Regions from separate parts of the Homo sapiens genome. Here region 2 is linked to region 1. A link means that fine-mapping ties the variant in region 1 to the expression of a gene that starts in the linked region. Tissue or cell type: whole blood. Region 1 holds a variant in brackets; the other region holds the start of a gene. All regions are shown on one strand. Distances are between the middles of the regions.

Region 1 (8,172 bases):
CCACAGCCCCCGCAGACCACGTGACCTCAATCTCTCGAGATGCTAAAGCTAAGGCCCCAGCAGAGGGGTCTGAGCGCTGTCACCCCTGGCCGCTGATTTACACACCAGGCCAACACCCGCTGTACAGGAAAGAAGGCTAGACTCTCGGCAGGGGAGCCACCCTCCACACCCAGGGCCCAGCGGCAACTGCGGTCTGGCCGGAGCAGGGCAGGAAGTTGGGGGCGTGGAGACAGAGGAAGGGTTTGGCTCTGACACCCACCCCTCGGGGCCTTGCTTTTCCCACTCGGGAGGGCGGGGGCTGGGGCAGCGGGTCCTTAGCACAGGGGTAGGATCGGGGGTAAGTCAGTGCTGGATCTGGGCAGAGGAGAGTCCAGGGCCTGCCTGTAGGTCTCGGCCCTTGCCCCACCCCCTGCCTCACCCATCTCCCCCAGGAGTGCTCAGGTGACCACCCATCCGCCACTCCCTCCCGTACCTCTGCACCCTCGCACCCCAGCTCTCCCACCCCCACAGGCGCTCAGACACTCACCCATCCGCCACTCCCTCCTGTACCTCTGCACCCTCGCACCCCAGCTCTCCCACCCCCACAGGCGCTCAGACACTCACCCATCCGCCACTCCCTCCCGTACGTCTGTACCCTCGCACCCCAGCTCTCCCACCCCCCAGGCGCTCAGAGGCTCACCCATCCACCACTCCCTCCTGTACCTCTGCACCCTCGCACCCCAGCTCTCCCACCCCCACAGGCGCTCAGACACTCACCCATCCGCCACTCCCTCCCGTACGTCTGTACCCTCGCACCCCAGCTCTCCCACCCCCCAGGCGCTCAGAGGCTCACCCATCCACCACTCCCTCCTGTACCTCTGCACCCTCGCACCCCAGCTCTCCCACCCCCACAGGCGCTCAGACACTCACCCATCCGCCACTCCCTCCCGTACGTCTGTACCCTCGCACCCCAGCTCTCCCACCCCCCAGGCGCTCAGAGGCTCACCCATCCGCCACTCCCTCCCGTACCTCTGCACCCTCGCACCCCAGCTCTCCCACCCCCCAGGCGCTCAGACACTCACCCATCCGCCACTCCCTCCCGTACGTCTGTACCCTCGCACCCCAGCTCTCCCACCCCCCAGGCGCTCAGAGGCTCACCCATCCACCACTCCCTCCTGTACCTCTGCACCCTCGCACCCCAGCTCTCCCACCCACACGGGCACTCAGGCGCTCACCCATCCGCCGCGTCTCCGCAGCCAGGTTGCCAGGGTCTTGCGCACGAACTCCCCCAGGCAGTCCACGAGGGCGTGGACCATGGCAGGCTGGGCCTGCCTCACACAGTCCACGGCCAGCCCCGCGGCCACCGCATACAGGGACACCACCTTGCCCCACGTGATGCCTGCAGGGAGAGAGATGGTCAAGATCAGGACTTGAATCCCGCCCACGGGAGCACTTAAGGAAGGGGCTGGGCCTCTCTGAGCCGCTGTCCTGCTTGCCGTCCAGCTAATGACCAGGGACCGTCCCAAGGGGGGACCGCTCCCTGACAGGATGCCTGTCAGGTAGTTCTTGGGCAGGCAGGTTTCTCGGCCTCCACTGCACACCTGCCCAGCCCACGTCTGTGCAGGAGGCCGCAGGGACAACGTGGGGTGAGGCGAGGGAACTGAGGGCAGCAGCAGATGGAGTGAGCAGCCAGTGACCTCACGGGTGGCACCCCTGGGCTGCCTGTTCCCACAACAGGCCTGGCGTCCACATTTTACACATAAAGAAGCTGAGGCCCGCAGAGAAACTGCCTTCCCCAGACCCCTAACCTGCTGAGGCTGAACTGAGATGGGAGCAGCCTTGAAAGAGAGGACGAAAGATGGTGACAGCGGGGGAAAGAATAAAAGGCAGGACACGACGCCTCAACACGGAAAGACGTCTTATACGTGAGCGAGAAAAGAGAGGCTTTCAAAAAAGAACTATGAGCACAGAACTGGAACAGCTGATTCACAAAAGAAAATTATAATAAGAGACACGAAAAATGTTTACCTTCATTAATAACCAAAGAAAGGCAAATTAAAACAAAATGTAATCTGTTGCATTAAAAGCTTTTACGCCAGGCGCGGTGGCTCACGCCTGGAATCCCAGCACTTTGGGAGGCCGAGGCGGGCAGATCACAAGGTTGGGAGTTCAAGAGCAGCCTGACCAACATGGTGAAACCGTCTCTACTAAAAATACACAAAAAATTAGCCAGGCGTGGTGGCACGCGCCTATAATCCCAGCTACTCGGGAGGCTGAAGCAGGAGAATCACTTGAACCCGGGGAGGCGGAGGTTGCAGTGAGCTGAGATCGCGCCAGTACACTCCAGCCTGGGCGACAGAGCGAGACCCCGTCTCTAAATAAATAAATAAATACATGCTTTTAAATGGCAGTGTGAGGATTCAGGCCACTGCACAGCCTTGTAAACCTTGGTGGGAAGCCCAGCTTGAGGGCACTGGCAGTATCTGAATGGCCACAAAACATGCAGCCCAGCAGTGATCCCCGCAGGGAGTTAGCAGCGGTCCCCGGAGGGAGTCAGCAGTGGTCCCTGGAGGGAGTTAGCCTGAGGACACTGTACATGCAAAGATGAAGCACTGCTCTCCAATCCACCCTCATACAGCGGCCAACCTGGATTTGTTATGAAAACATAAATCAGCTCAAACAAACACTCAGTCACAGACATTCACAGCAGCCAATTCACAATTGCCAAAAGGTGGAAAGAACCCAAGTATCCTTCAACAGATAAATGGATACAAATGTGGTGGATGTTACTCAGCCACAGAAGGCAGGCTGGGCACAGTGGCTCACGCCTATAATCCCAGCACCTTGGAAGGCCGAGGTGGGCAGATCACCTGAGGTCAGGAGTTCAAGACCAGCCCGGCCAACATGGTGAAACCCCATCTCTACTAAAAATACAAAAATTAGCCGGATATGGTGGTGGGCGCCTGTAATCCCAGCTACTCGGGAGGCTGAGGCAGGGCAATCACTTGAACCCAGGAGGTGGAGGTTTCAGTGAGCCCAGATCGCACCACTGTACTCCAGCCTGGGAGACAGAGCAAGATTCTATCTCAAAAAAATAAATAAATGGCTGGGCGCGGTGGCTCACGCCTGTAATCCCAGCATTTTGGGAGGCCGAGGCAGGTGGATCACGAGGTCAGGAGATCGAAACCATCCTGGCTAAAACGGTGAAACCCCATCTCTACTAAAAACACAAAAAATTAGCCGGGCATGGCGGCTGGTGCCTGTAGTCCCAGCTACTCGGGAGGCTGAGGCAGGAGAATGGTGTGAACCCAGGAGGCGGAGCTTGCAGTGAGCCGAGATCACGCCATTGCACTCTAGCCTGGGCAATAGAGTGAAAAAATAAATAAATAATAAATAAATAAAAGAAGGCATGGGGCTCTGAGGCAGGCTGGGCATGGATGGGCCTCAAAAACACATGCTTGGGTGGAAGCTGCCAGGCATAAAAAGCCACATACAGTGTGAGTCC[G/A]TGGATGCAAAATGTCCACAACAGTCAGGGACAGAGCTGGGACGCAGGCTCACGGCTGGCAGTGGGCGAGGGGTGGGGAATGGCGGTGGCGGCCACGGGCACAGGCATTCTGGGGTGATAAAGACCTCCTGAGACTAGTAGCTGGTGGCTGCTCCACACTGGGAATGTGGCAGATGCTGCTGAATTGCACACTTTTAAGTGGATAATTATGTCATGTGAGTTTAACGTCAATTAAAAGAAATGGGGAAAAACACAACTCAGACCATGTCACTCCCCTGCATAAAGCTCTCGTGTTGCTGTGACTTCCCGTGTCCTTCAAAGTAAACCCAAGTTTGAATTCCCAGCTGAGCTGGCCCCTGGCAGACTCCAGCCCTTTTCCTGCCACCCCAACCTCGAAGGTGCCCTTGTCATTGGTGGGATGCGCACACCCGGCACAGCCCCTGCTCTACCCGCTGCACTTCCCCAGCACGTGGGGCTGTTCCTCCTTCAAGGGCACGGCCATGCGGGGAGCGGAGCCTGATGTCAGCACTGCGTGTGGCTTGCGGGACAACCTGTTCTGAGGTGTCCGGTTCCATCAGAACAGTGCATTCCACGCTGGGTGCGGTGGCTCATGCCTATAATCCTAGCACTTGGGGAGGCTGAGGCAGACGGATCACCTGAGGTCAGGAGTTCAAGATCAGCCTGGCCAACATGGTGAAACCCCATCTCTACTAAAAATACAAACATTAGCCAAGCATGGTGGCGGGTGCCTGTAATCCCAGCTACTCAGGAGGGTGAAGCAGGAGAATCGCTTGAACCCGGGTGGCGGAGGTTGCAAGATCACAACTCTTCATTCCAGCCTCGGCAAAAGAGCAAAAATTAAAAAAAAAAAAAAGAACATACTATGTTCCGAGTGATGGCAACATTTCCACTCCAGAGGGGTGGATGGGAAAGAAAGACAGGAAGACAGGAGTCCGGAGGCACCAGCCTCGGCGTCCACTGTGTCCTTCCAGCTCTTCTGTGTCTTTTTAACTGATATAATTCCATTACCATAAAATTAATCTTTTAAAAGTGGGATATCTTTGAGCATATTCACAAAGCTGTGCAACCATCACCTCTATCTAATTCTAGAACATTTTCATCATCCCACGAGAAACCCCATGCCCACTAGCAGTCACTCCCTATTTCACCGACAGCCCCTGGCAGCCACTCATCTTACTTTCTGTCTCTGTAGATTTACCTACCCTGAAAATTTCACATAAGTGTAATCACACGGCTTGTTCATTTTGTGTCTGGCGTATTTCACAGGTTGAGGTGGCAGGAAAAGGGCTGGAGTCTGCCAGGGGCCAGCTCAGCTGGGAATTCAAACTTAGGTTTACTTTGAAAGACACGGGAAGTCACAGCAACACGAGAACTTTATGCAGGGAAGTGACATGGTCTGATTTGTGTTTTTTCCCAGCACTGTGGGAGGCCGAAGTGGGTGGATCACCTGAGGTCAGGAGTTCGAGACCAGCCTGGTTGACATGGTGAAACTCTGTCTGCTAATAATATAAATAATACTAACAATACAAAAATTAGCTAGGCGTGGTGGCACATACCTGTAATCCCAGCTACTCGAGAGGCTGAGGCAGGAGAACTGCTTGAACCCAGGAAATGGAGGTTGCAGTGAGCCGAGATCGCACCATTGCACCTCCAGCCTGGGCAACAAGAGTGAAACTCCATCTCAAAAAAAAAAAAGAAAAAAGAAAAAAAAGAAAGAATAGGGTCTGCCTCTGTCACCCAGGCTGGAGAGCAGTGGCACAATCTCGGCTCACCGCAACCTGCGCCTCCCGGGTTCAAGCGATTCTCCTGTCTCAGCCTCCCGAGTAGCTGAGATTACAGGCATGTGCCACCAAACCTGGCCAATTTTGTATTTTTATTAGAGACAGGGTTTCTTCTTTTTGGTCAGGCTGGTCTCAAACTCCCGACCTCAGGTGATCCACCCACCTCGGCCTCCCAAAGTGCTGGGATTACAGGCGTGAGTCACTGCACCCAGCCATTTTTATTTTTCTTATAATAAAACTATAATTAGAAGAATTATATAAAATTACATATGTATTTATAGAAAATACAATTCAAATTCAAAGAAAAAAATAAACACTATTGCCAACTTTTAAATGGGGAGGAAAATTGAGTTCTACCACTTTGGAGATGAGTTTTTCCAAAGTCCTGAGCAGGAACTTTGAAGCCCTAAATGAAAACAGCCAGAAACAACATTTGTTGGCCTCTGCCTTCGTGGGAGTCTCCTGGGGCTGGAGACTTGGAGACCCCCACGGAGCCCTGCCCTGCAGCCCTCACACGGCTCACAACACTAGCCAAGGCCCCAGCCCTGAGGTGCGGGCTGTGCAGCTTGCCTGCAGTGGAGGGGCTGGGCAGGGCGCACACCCTCAAGGGCGCCTGCTAAGAGGAGGAGAGGGAGGAAGACCGGGGGTCAGAGCGTGCAGGGATGGCTGGCGTGGGAGGGGCCTCAGGCAGGGAGGCAAGGATGTGTAAAGCACTTGGAGGCTGGAGGCTCGCCCTGTAGACAAAAGGGCCCAAGAGGACTGGGATGGACAAAGGTGAAGGGGGCTGGGGGTGCAACTGCCAGTGGGCCTGAGGGGCAGAAGGGGCGGCCCTGCCCTAGCTCCCTAGTCAGGTGGCTCTGGTTCAGGGAGGTTCAGAAACCCGTTGCAGGTCACGAGGCTCTTGGGCTTCAACCTGCGTGGCTCCCCTCGGGCAGGGCCGCCTCAGAGTAGCAGCAGGTGGGGGTGTGGGGGCTGCCACATGGCCAGAGCCGGGCCTGCGTGGGACAAGCCTGGGGCGCTGGGTGGGGTGGGGGATGCTGACCACAGGGGAGTGGGCTCCGGTTTTCCAGTGAAAACAAGACTTAAACTGAACTCTACACATAGCCCGGGCCACCTGGCCGGTGCCGCCCACATTCCCCGTCAGCTGTGTGCCCGCTCGTCCAGCCATCCCCTTCCCCTCAGCCCTCCCTGGCCCCCAGGTGCCCTCCCAGAACCAACCAGAGCCTTCCTAGGCACCGCCCCCACCTCAGGCCAGGCCCTGCTCAAGCAAGGCCGGGCGGGTAGGGGCATCCTGGCCCCATCCTCTCTCCCTGCCGAAGGGGGAGGCGCCCCACCTCTGGGCAGGCTGCTGCATTCTCAGAAATGACTGTTCCTTTTAAAGCCAGCCTGCAGCTCGTAAACCCAGCGGCCCCGAGACAGACACCCGGGTGGCCACCCACGCGCCGGCGTCGGCCAAGGGAGGGCTGAGAGTGGTCGTCAGCCCAGGATGCCTTCCACCCCTGGCTTCCTTCCGGGGCCCCACCCACTGCCTGCCCCGTGCCTGCCTGGGTCACCCTGGCGGCAGGAGGGGCGGGCACCAGCTTGCCAGCTCCTGCCACCATGCTTCCGCTGCCCACTGTGCCGTGAACCCTGCCCCCTGCCCACCCGGCCCCTGAGCCACACCACCTGCCCACTCCCCAGCCCCTACCCATATGCACCCCCAGCCGACTCAGGTCTGCCCCATGACACGCCTCAGCCTGGCCTGGGCCCGGCCCCCCACCCTCAGCTGCCACGTGGGGGCCTTGGAGCCAAACTGCCAATGAGGATTCATTTACGATCTCCCAAAGGAACACAGGAGCAGTGACAGAGTCCAGGCTCTGAGGCCACCCCAGGAGCGCCAGACAGGGAGTCTCGCCCGCACCCAGCTTGGTTCCGCCTCCTGACCCCACACCACAGCCTGAGGTCACTGCCCCTCCCCAGGTGTGGTCTGAGGCACTCCAGCACATGCTGTGGCAACAAGACAAGCCCGGAGGCAGGACCAGACCCCGCCTGGACTCCCATCCCTGGACTCAGCCTTCCCGCTCCAGCAGCCTGCCAGGTCGCCGCTGCATCCCAGCCACAGTAACTTCTGTCCAGGGAGGTCAGCAGTGAGCAAGCGTGGCACTGGAGAGGCCGGATTCTGTCAGAAAATGCTCGCAGCCCCCGCCGCCTTGGCCTCCAGCCGAGGGTGTCAGCCCCGCTCTGTCCCCATCTGGCTGGCCCACCAGGGGTCGGAGGAGACGTCTGGGAGAGGAGCTGGAGGACACCCCACAAAGGTGGGGTCTGCCTGAGCGAGAGGCAGTGGTCCTCACACTCCTGGCCTCTTCCCCTTGCCCTCCGGTGGGTGGAGGTCCCGAGGCCATCTGAAGACCCCTGGCTCTGAGGGTCACCCCGTGGCGTGGGATGCATCTCCCACAGCGAGGGTGTGGCTTCCTCTGGCGCCTGATGCCTGGCTCCTGCTGCTGTCAGGACTGCCTGGAGACAAGGCAGCTGAGGCCACAGAGATGACAGCAGGCCACAGTCACACAGCTGACTGGCCACGGACCCACACCAGCTCCCAGACAAGGGTGTGCAAGGCCTCCCTGCTGTCAGGGGTCTTCCAAAAAACTGCCCCAGGGGAACAGCATGCCCCTCCTCCAAGCTTCAGGGAATCCTGCGCACCCCGGGGTTCACTGGCCCAGAGCTGTGCCCAGCACCTGGACAGCACTTGGAAAACAGCTGAGGAATGTGCCAATCAGGGAGGTGCCACATCAGGGCCGGCGCACCACTCACCCCAACAGCAGCACCCAGCGCCTGCCACACCCAGGGGCAGCTCATAGCACGGGGTGCCAGGACAGGACCCAAGGTCACAGAGGTCAAAGGCAGGGG
Region 2 (8,172 bases), 310 kb before region 1:
TGAAGGTCCTCTCGTTAAAGACCAGCACCCGCGTAACCCGTCCACAGCCTGCAGCCCTGCACAGAGGCTCAGACTCCTCGAAACCCCAGATGCTCCCCACCACCCGAGCTCCCACCTGCTGTAGGCAGTTAAACCACTCAAACTTCACTTACAGGATTATCCAGCTGAACACCCAGGCTGTACTGCTTAAGGGCTGCAGCCTTGAAAGACACACTCAAAATTACAGCCTCAGAAAGCACGCACTGCAGGGAAAGGCACTCAATAGAACATGCTGAGTGGTGCAATCCACCCTGGGGCCCCCAGAGGAGTCTGCATTTCTCTCCCCGTGAGCTCTTTAATGGTGCACACACAGCACCCAGCACGGAGGGGCTAATTGATTAGCTGTCTCTGCAGCACATGCTGCTGGCGCCATGGCTCACAGCAATTCCACGCTTACACTCACAGCCTGTTTCTCTGCTGTTGGAGCTCTGGTGGGCTGCAGGCTTCACTGCCACAACACACGGGACCCGGTGTCCACCTGCCACCTCCCCACCTGGGGCGCCTCTGGGCTGCTAGGCTGGTAAGAGGTCACCCCTGCCGTGACAGGGTAGCCAGTGCTGGACCTGCGTTCCTCCAGCAAATGGCTGTGAAACTGGACAAATACAGGGCCACTGTGATGGAGCCAACTGTGAGCCATGCTTCCCACCCTCCCCCTCCCACTCTGCCACCATAGGAGGCAGAGCTCGGGGAAACAAGGGCGCAGTGAGAGGAGGGCATAGCACCAGGGCTGGGGTTGGCCTGGGACAACAGAGAAGGAGCTGTGTGGATGCCGGACAGGGGAGATGGGGAGGAAAGTGACCATGGCTCACAGCGGCCTCAACCTCCTGGGCTCCAGGGATCCCCCTGCCTCAGCCTCCCGAGCAGCTGAAACTACAGGTGCACACCACCATGCTCGGCTAGTTTGCTTTCTTTTTAATAGACGAGGTATCACTGTGTTTCCGAAAGCAGTCTCGAACTCCTAAGTTCAAGCAATCCTCCTGCCTCTGCCTCCTAAAATTTGGGCATCACAAACATGAGCCACCACACCCAACTGACAGTTAATTTCTTAAAAAGTTAACTTTAATTTATTCAAAAGATTGTCTAAAGCAAAAGTAGCATTGTGTTACGGAGTTTGTAATGTAGGTAGAGGTTAAACATATGGCAACTGTAACAGGAAGAACAGGGTTAGAGGAATTACACCGTTACAAGTTTCCCACATTTTGTGTGAGGTGAATAGGCTGATAAATTAAGGATTCATTTTGTTGTCTTTAGGGTAACTACTAAAAATGGTAATACCAAGAGGCACAGCTAAAAGACCAACAGAGGTGTAAAACGAAGTACTAAAAAATTTCAATTAACCCAAAAAAGGCAGGAATGGAGGAACAAAGGAACAAAAAAATGACAAATAAAAAACAAATGACAAGATAAGACACTTAGAAAACAAGTAGCAAGATGGGGGATCTACAGCAACCTCATCAATCATTACTGGAATTGCAAATGGAGAAACTCCATGTGCAAAGCAGGGATTGTCACCAAGACCCAACTCCATCTACAGACACCCACGTAAGATACAAAGACAGGTTGGGTGTCTAAAGGATAGAAAAAGATCCACAGTGGTCCAGGAGTGGTCCCAGCATTGTGGTAGGCACAAGAGTGAGGATCACTTGAGTCTTAGAGTTTGACCTGTAATCCAAGCACTTTGGGAGGCTGAGGCAGGCAGATCACCTGAGGTCAAGAGTTCCAGACCAGCCTGGCCAACACGGTGAAACCCTGTCTCTACTAAAAATACGAAAAAAATTAGCCAGGCATGGTGGTTTGTGCCTGTAATCCCAGCTACTGGAGAGGCTGAGGCAGGAGAATTGCCTGAACCCAGGAGGCAGAGGTTGCAGCGAGCCAAGATCGCGCCACTGCACTCCAGCCTGGGCAACAAGAGTGAAACTCCATCTCAAAAAAAAAAAAAAGGAGTTTGAAAAATACAAAAAAAAAATTAGCCTGGTGTGGTGGTGCACACCTGTGGTCTCAGCTACTCTGGAGGCTGAGGTGGAAGGATCACTTGAGCCCAGGAGGTCGAGGCTGTGGTGAGCCAAGATGGCACCACTGCACTCCAGCCCGGGCAACAGAGTGAGACCCTGTCTCAAAAAAAAAAAAAAAAAGGAAAAAAGTGGCCAGGCACGGTGGCTCATGCCTGTAATCCCAGCACTTTGGGAGGCCAAGGTGGGCAGGATCACAACGTCAGGATATAAAGACCATCCTGGCTAACACGGTGAAACCCCGTCTCTACTAAAAAAAATACAAAAAAATTAGCCAGGCGTGGTGGCGGGTGCCTGTGGTCCCAGCTACTCGGGAGGCTAAGGCAGGAGAATGGCGTGAACCCGAGAGGTGGAGCTTGCAGCGAGCCAAGATCGCGCCACTGCACTCCAGCTTGGGCAATGGAGCAAGACTCTGTCTGAAAAAGAAAAAAAAAAGAAAAAAGAATAGAAAAAGGAAAAGATACACAGTGCCAATTCTGTGCATAAGAAAATAGCCCTGGAACACTCACATTAGACCAGGTAGCACCCCTGAAGATAAAGAGGGACATTCCATGATGACACCATGGTCAGCCACTGTCAGGATCACAGAAAAATCCTAAATGCCTAAAAAGATAATAACAGTTTCAAAAAACACGAAGTAAAAACGGACGGAACTGAAAGAATAGAGAAATTCACTGTCCTAGTTGGAGATGTAACAGCTCTCTCGGGACTGCAAGCACAGCGGGTGGGACAGGAAGGATTCGCCGGTTTAAAGAGCACTGTCAACCAGCTGCACCTCATTAACTCTTGGCGAGCATCCCACCCCACAGCTGCAGAACACAAGTAATTTTTGAGTGTATACGGAGCATTTACAAAGATAGGGCTTATGTTAAACAGTAAGAATAAGTCTCTGTAATTTTAAAAAGTGAGATCCTGCAGTTTGTTCCTTGATCAAAATGGAATTAAATCAGTAATAGCAAGATTCCTTTTAGACTCTCCACATATTTGGAAAGTGGGCAATACTCTTCTAAATATGCTTCTCAGAATAGAGGGTTTAAAAAATAAATACACACATAAAGAGATTCTTCTAAATAAAGCATGGGTCAAAGAAGAAATCCAAAGAAAATTAGCACTTATTTCAAATATCCATCAAAATATTACACAAAAATTGTAGCATAGTCTTAGAGGAAGATTTGTGACTTTAAATACTGACGACATTTCAACAAAGAAGGTACACAGTGATCAATACACTCATGAAAGGGTGTTCAACTCACCCGTCACAAGGAAATGCAAACTAACGCCTCACTGAGATCTGCCAAACTTCTGGTGCCGACTGTGACCTGGCCGCGCCTGCGGGGGGCAGAGGAGAGAAGGAGACTGGGGGTGAGGTCCACGTGTCCCAGGCAGGGGGACAGAGGCCAGAAGAAAGTGGCTGCGGGTGAGATCCACATGTCCCAGCCAGGGACGGAGAGGAGGGAGAACCGGACAGCAGCATCTGCTTCCAGCCACGTCACGTGTTTGGAGAGGCGGTGTCACCTCAGTGTGAGGAATGGCCACTCAGGACACGTCTGGACTTCCTCCCAGCCACCTCTCACCAGGGATCAGAATCCCGGCCCCGGGGACCCTCGACCCATAAACATCTTGGGCCTACAGCACCACCAAGCACGCCACAGCCTTGGCCTGGGGCTGCTTCAGAGACACCGCACGGAGGGCTTCTCACTTCCCCAGCCAGGAGCCACCCACGCTGCACCCGGGGAGGCCCCAGTTGCATCTGTCCCACCTTTCAGACCGAGCCAGCCAGAGGCGCCCAGAAAGACTATGCCAGGCCTCAGCTGTGTTGAAACCCAGGTTGGGGACAGTGGCAGGACCTGTGCCAGCGTCTGCCCTTGCTCCTGGCTGGATTCAGTTACTTGGCTGGGCCCCAGTGAAGGCGCAGAGGGCACCACCACCTGCACAGGAAGGGAAGGAAGCCCACAGCAGAGCCAGCACACGTGTGGCCACGCCCCGGCCCAGCCCCCCCTCACACGTGGCCACACCCCCTGCCCAGCCCCCTTACATGTGGCCACACCTCCGATCAGCCCCCTTCCACACGTGGTCACGCCCCCTGTTCAGCCTCCTCGCACATGACCACGCCCCCGTCCAGCCCCCGCACACAGGGCCACTCCTCTAGCCCAGCCCCTCACACGCGTGACCACGCCCCTTAGTCTCCTCGCTCGTGGCCACGCCCCCTGCACGGCCCCCTCGCGCGTGGCCACACCCCTGTCCAGCCACACACACACACACACACACACACACACACACACACACACACACACGCTGGGCCACGCCCCTACCCAGCCCCCTCACACGTATGGGCACGCCCCTGCTCAGCGCCCTCACACGCATGGCCACCCCCCGTCCAGCCCCTTAACGCGTGCTGCCCCGTGCCCACCTACAGCGGCCTCCTCCGCACCAGGGCTGACCCAGTGTGGGGTCCAGGTGGGCTCTGGTAGGCCCCCGGGCAGAGCTGTGCCCCGCGTCACTGAGGATGCACAGAGAAAAAGGAAGGGGCGGAGGAAGCGGAAACCCGAGCAGCGCTGCCTGGGCGTGGCAAGCCCGCTAGTTTTCCCGCCCGCTCATCTGCTTTCCCTCCCTCCATAATAAGTGTGGCACCTGGAGTGTGTGACTTTCATGATTTTCTTTTAGGAGAAACATAACGCAGTCCTCTGTCCCGCCCCTCCTGCAGGGAATGGTCATGGGGGCGTAGTTAACCCCATGCGTGCGGAGGTACACCTTGGAGCCCAGCGCCGACACAGGTCAGGAGAGTGTTAGCCACTGCTGAATGACTCCTGTTGTGTGCAAAATTGTTTTGACTTTTAAAGACTACACACAACCCATTCTGCCATTATTTAGGGTGAATTATACTGCTGGGTCACAAGAAGAAGACGTGGCTCCTCTTGATGCTGAGGGAGGCCTGGAAGTCATTGCTGGGAGCTTGGGAAGAGGGCTCCCCGAGGCAGAGCCTCCCAGGGGACAGAGGCGGCCCAGCGATGACCTGGGAGGTGAGCACAGGTGTGCGGGGCCCCTCGGGGCCCACCATAAGGCCCCACAGCAGGCCCTAACCTCCCCCATGTGTCCTAAGGCAGTTCCATTTGCATTGGCAATGGTCATTTCACTACTTCTGACCTGGAAGCGAGGTATATGTTTGGAGGTGACACGAGGCTCCCAAAGGGGTGCTATAGGGCGCCTTTTCTTATTTTATAAAACTTACATCGAAATGAGCCGCACCCTGAGGGGCAGCCCACCTGCTCACCCCTGGAGGGACTCTCCCAGGGCTGAGGGTCTTCCCCAGATGCTTCACCCGGGCTCCTCCAAGTGTGGGGTGGCCTTCAGTCTGCTGCGAAGAGGATGTGGGGTGTCTGGCAGCCACTCTGCTCTGGATTTGCGGGAACCTCTGCTGCCTCCCTGGTGCCCCTTGATTGGCGCTGGGTCTAGGAACCCCCTCTGGGTTGGAACTGGACTTGAAAAGGTCATTTTCTGCCTGCACCCACCAAGGCCACCTGGGGCTGTGGAGCCAGGAAACCCCTGTCACTCTCCTCAGATGCTGGCCCGAGGGCACCCTCAGTCTCCCTGAGTCCAAATCACCTTTTCTTCCCAAATGACCCAGCAGCCTAGGCCAGCCCCAGCTGGAAAGACTGCTCCCCTCTCTCCTCCGCTCTGCTCCCCTGCCCTCTCTTCCCCTCCCCTCCCTTCCTTTCTTCTGCTGGCGGAAGTCCTGTGCCAATCCCACATCCACATCCGTCACTGCACTCCTGGATCACACCTGGACAGACACAGAACTAGTCCTGGGAGTGATCCCAGGGCCAGGACCCTAGTAATGAGTTATCTAAATGTCTCTGGGTGTCTGGAATTGGTTCTCTGCTCCAACTAGCTTTAAAGGCATTCACGCTCTGTTCCCAGGGGTACCAGGGTGCTAGCTGCCCACAGGAGTAGCATACAGGCACTCAGATTGCCACCTGCAGACATCTGTAATCAAATGGCCATAGGATGCCTGGCCCTGGGCATCAAGGGAAAAATTTAGGGGTGTAGCTGGGTGGGCGGATGCTTCTAAGTGTGCTGGAGAACTTGGGGAAAAAGAGAAAGGCCTCCAATTTAGCCCCCAAAGTCCCAGGCAAACAGGGACACTTGCCATAACAGGTGGAGACATTCCCCAAAGGCTGGGAGGCAGAGTGGAGGCATCGCCAGGACCCCAGCCCTCTGCTGCCTCTCCTGTACAGAGGTACAAAGTCCCAGGCCCCAGAAGGAAAGGGAAGGAGATCCCCGAACCTCTGCTCCAGCTAGGACCTCACTGAGGCCCAGGTGGTGTGACCCTCCACCTACCAGCCAGCCCGGGGCCCGGATCACAGCGTGGCCACTCCTCCTGGGGACTTCCCTGGCCTCCCGCTCCCCTCGCCAAAGCTGCGGGTGAAGCAGCTCTAGCCCACCCTAGCTAGCCATTGTCCAAGGCCAAGGCCCGCCTGTCCACCTGAATACCCAGGGTCCAGGGTAACCAACCTGATCCTAACCCAACCCTGCAACAGGTAGCTACATAAATCAGCACAGACCCTACCCCACCCCCAGACACTTAGAGAGGCATTCGCTTTATCCACCACAGGGTGATGGGAGCTGCTGTCAGAGTTCTCGCCAGACCCTCCCAGGGAACCCCAGACTTGGTTTCAGCAGGAACCACATGTGACCCTGGATGAGCTGACCCCCATCACTAGGAAATGTACCTTAAGTCAGAAAAGTATTCACACTTTGAGTCCCCTCAACTTTGGCTGAACTAATAGCAATTACATTAAAAATGTGTCTGCCCTTCATCTTCTTTGACTTTGATATTAAATATCTCTACTAATAACTCAGTTGCCTAAAGTCGTTACTGCTACCTCATATTTAATTAGGCCCAACCTGGCCACTCCAACCATATAGGAGACTCAGGCAAGAGCTCAGATGTAGGCTCAGGTTAAAGTTCCAGTGTGGATTCAGGTGTGGGCCCAGGTGCAGCCTCAGGTGTAGTCTCGGGTGAGGGCTTAGGTGCAGCCTCAGGTGTAAGCTCAGGTTAAAGTTCCAGTGTGGGCCCAGGTGCAACCTCAGATGAGAGCTCAGGTGTGGGCTCAGGTGCAGCCTCAGACGAGAGCTCAGGTGTGGGATCAGGTGCAGCCTCAGACGAGAGCTCAGGTGTGGGCTCAGGTGCAGCCTCAGACGAGAGCTCAGGGGAGGGCTCAGGTGCAACCTCAGATGAGGGCTCAGGTGTGGGCTCAGGTGCAGCCTCAGATGAGAGCTCAGGTGTGGGCTCAGGTGCAGCCTCAGATGAGGGCTCAGGTGTGGGCTCAGGGTGAGAGTTCAGCTTGCTGCTTGGCATGTGAACCCCAGGCCTACCCTTGGCTTTTGAGCTAGTGTCTGTGCCTGGGCTTTCCCGCGACCATGGCGGTGCATTCAGCACTCACAGTACCGCATTTGCCTTCACAGCGGTGAGTGCACGCATTGCCTTAGCTCCCATTTTTACTAGTGAATGTAACAATTAATTAAATAAATACAATTACTAATGAAACCAATGGTAACAATGCTGATGATGGGTAGTTTTAACAACTCATCTGATTAAGCCGAGAAGCAGTTCAACAGCAATGAGGGCAAGGGAGCGGCCCCAGAGATCCACGCCCTCCCAGGCCTCCCTCGACAACAAGGTCTGCTCTTCCCCCACAGCGGCCACACGGGGGCGCCGCAGGACAGCGCGGAGTGGGCCGGGAGAGGGAGGGGAGCGAGGAGAGGGATGGGGTGGGGGGGCCGGGAGAGGGAGGGGAGCGAGGAGAGAGGGAAGGGGTGGGGGGGGCGGCCAGGAGAGGGAGGGGAGGGAGGAGAGGGATGGGGGTGGGGGGGCCGGGAGAGGGAGGGGAGCGAGGAGAGGGATGGGGTTGGGGGGCGGCCAGGAGAGGGAGGGGAGCAGAGAGAGGGACAGGTTGGGGGGGCCGGAAGGGGGAAGGGGGAAAGAGGAAGGGGAGGGGAGGGGAAGAGAGAAAGAGGGGCGCTGGACAGGTACACGAGGAGGGGAGAGGGACGGGGAGGGGGCTGGGAGGACCGAGAAAGGAGGGTCGGGGGAGGGGTAGGAAAGAAGGACCAGGAAGGGGGT

What was found. PIP is the estimated chance that this variant, and not a neighbour inherited with it, causes the effect.
Region 2: it holds the start of LINC01237, and the variant in region 1 is fine-mapped to the expression of LINC01237 in whole blood (INTERVAL, PIP 0.99).

What each region holds. Positions count from the first base shown.
Region 1 is chr2:241,563,331-241,571,502 of GRCh38, reverse strand. BOK (BCL2 family apoptosis regulator BOK) reads right to left here. Exons shown (of 5, transcript NM_032515.5): 4 at 1,215-1,378. Among named protein-coding and RNA genes, the nearest start is that of BOK-AS1, 8.3 kb to the right of the region's middle. RefSeq lists an enhancer at 823-1,447. The variant G/A (reference allele first, on the strand shown) is at 3,485.
Region 2 is chr2:241,877,765-241,885,936 of GRCh38, reverse strand. It overlaps LINC01237 (long intergenic non-protein coding RNA 1237), which reads right to left and starts at 4,574. Exons shown (of 4, transcript NR_110220.1): 1 at 4,459-4,574; 2 at 3,302-3,377. It overlaps LOC105373978 (a long non-coding RNA gene), which reads left to right and starts at 4,610. Exons shown (of 3, transcript XR_924077.3): 1 at 4,610-4,822; 2 at 4,920-5,068; 3 at 6,661-6,903. RefSeq lists an enhancer at 4,554-5,144.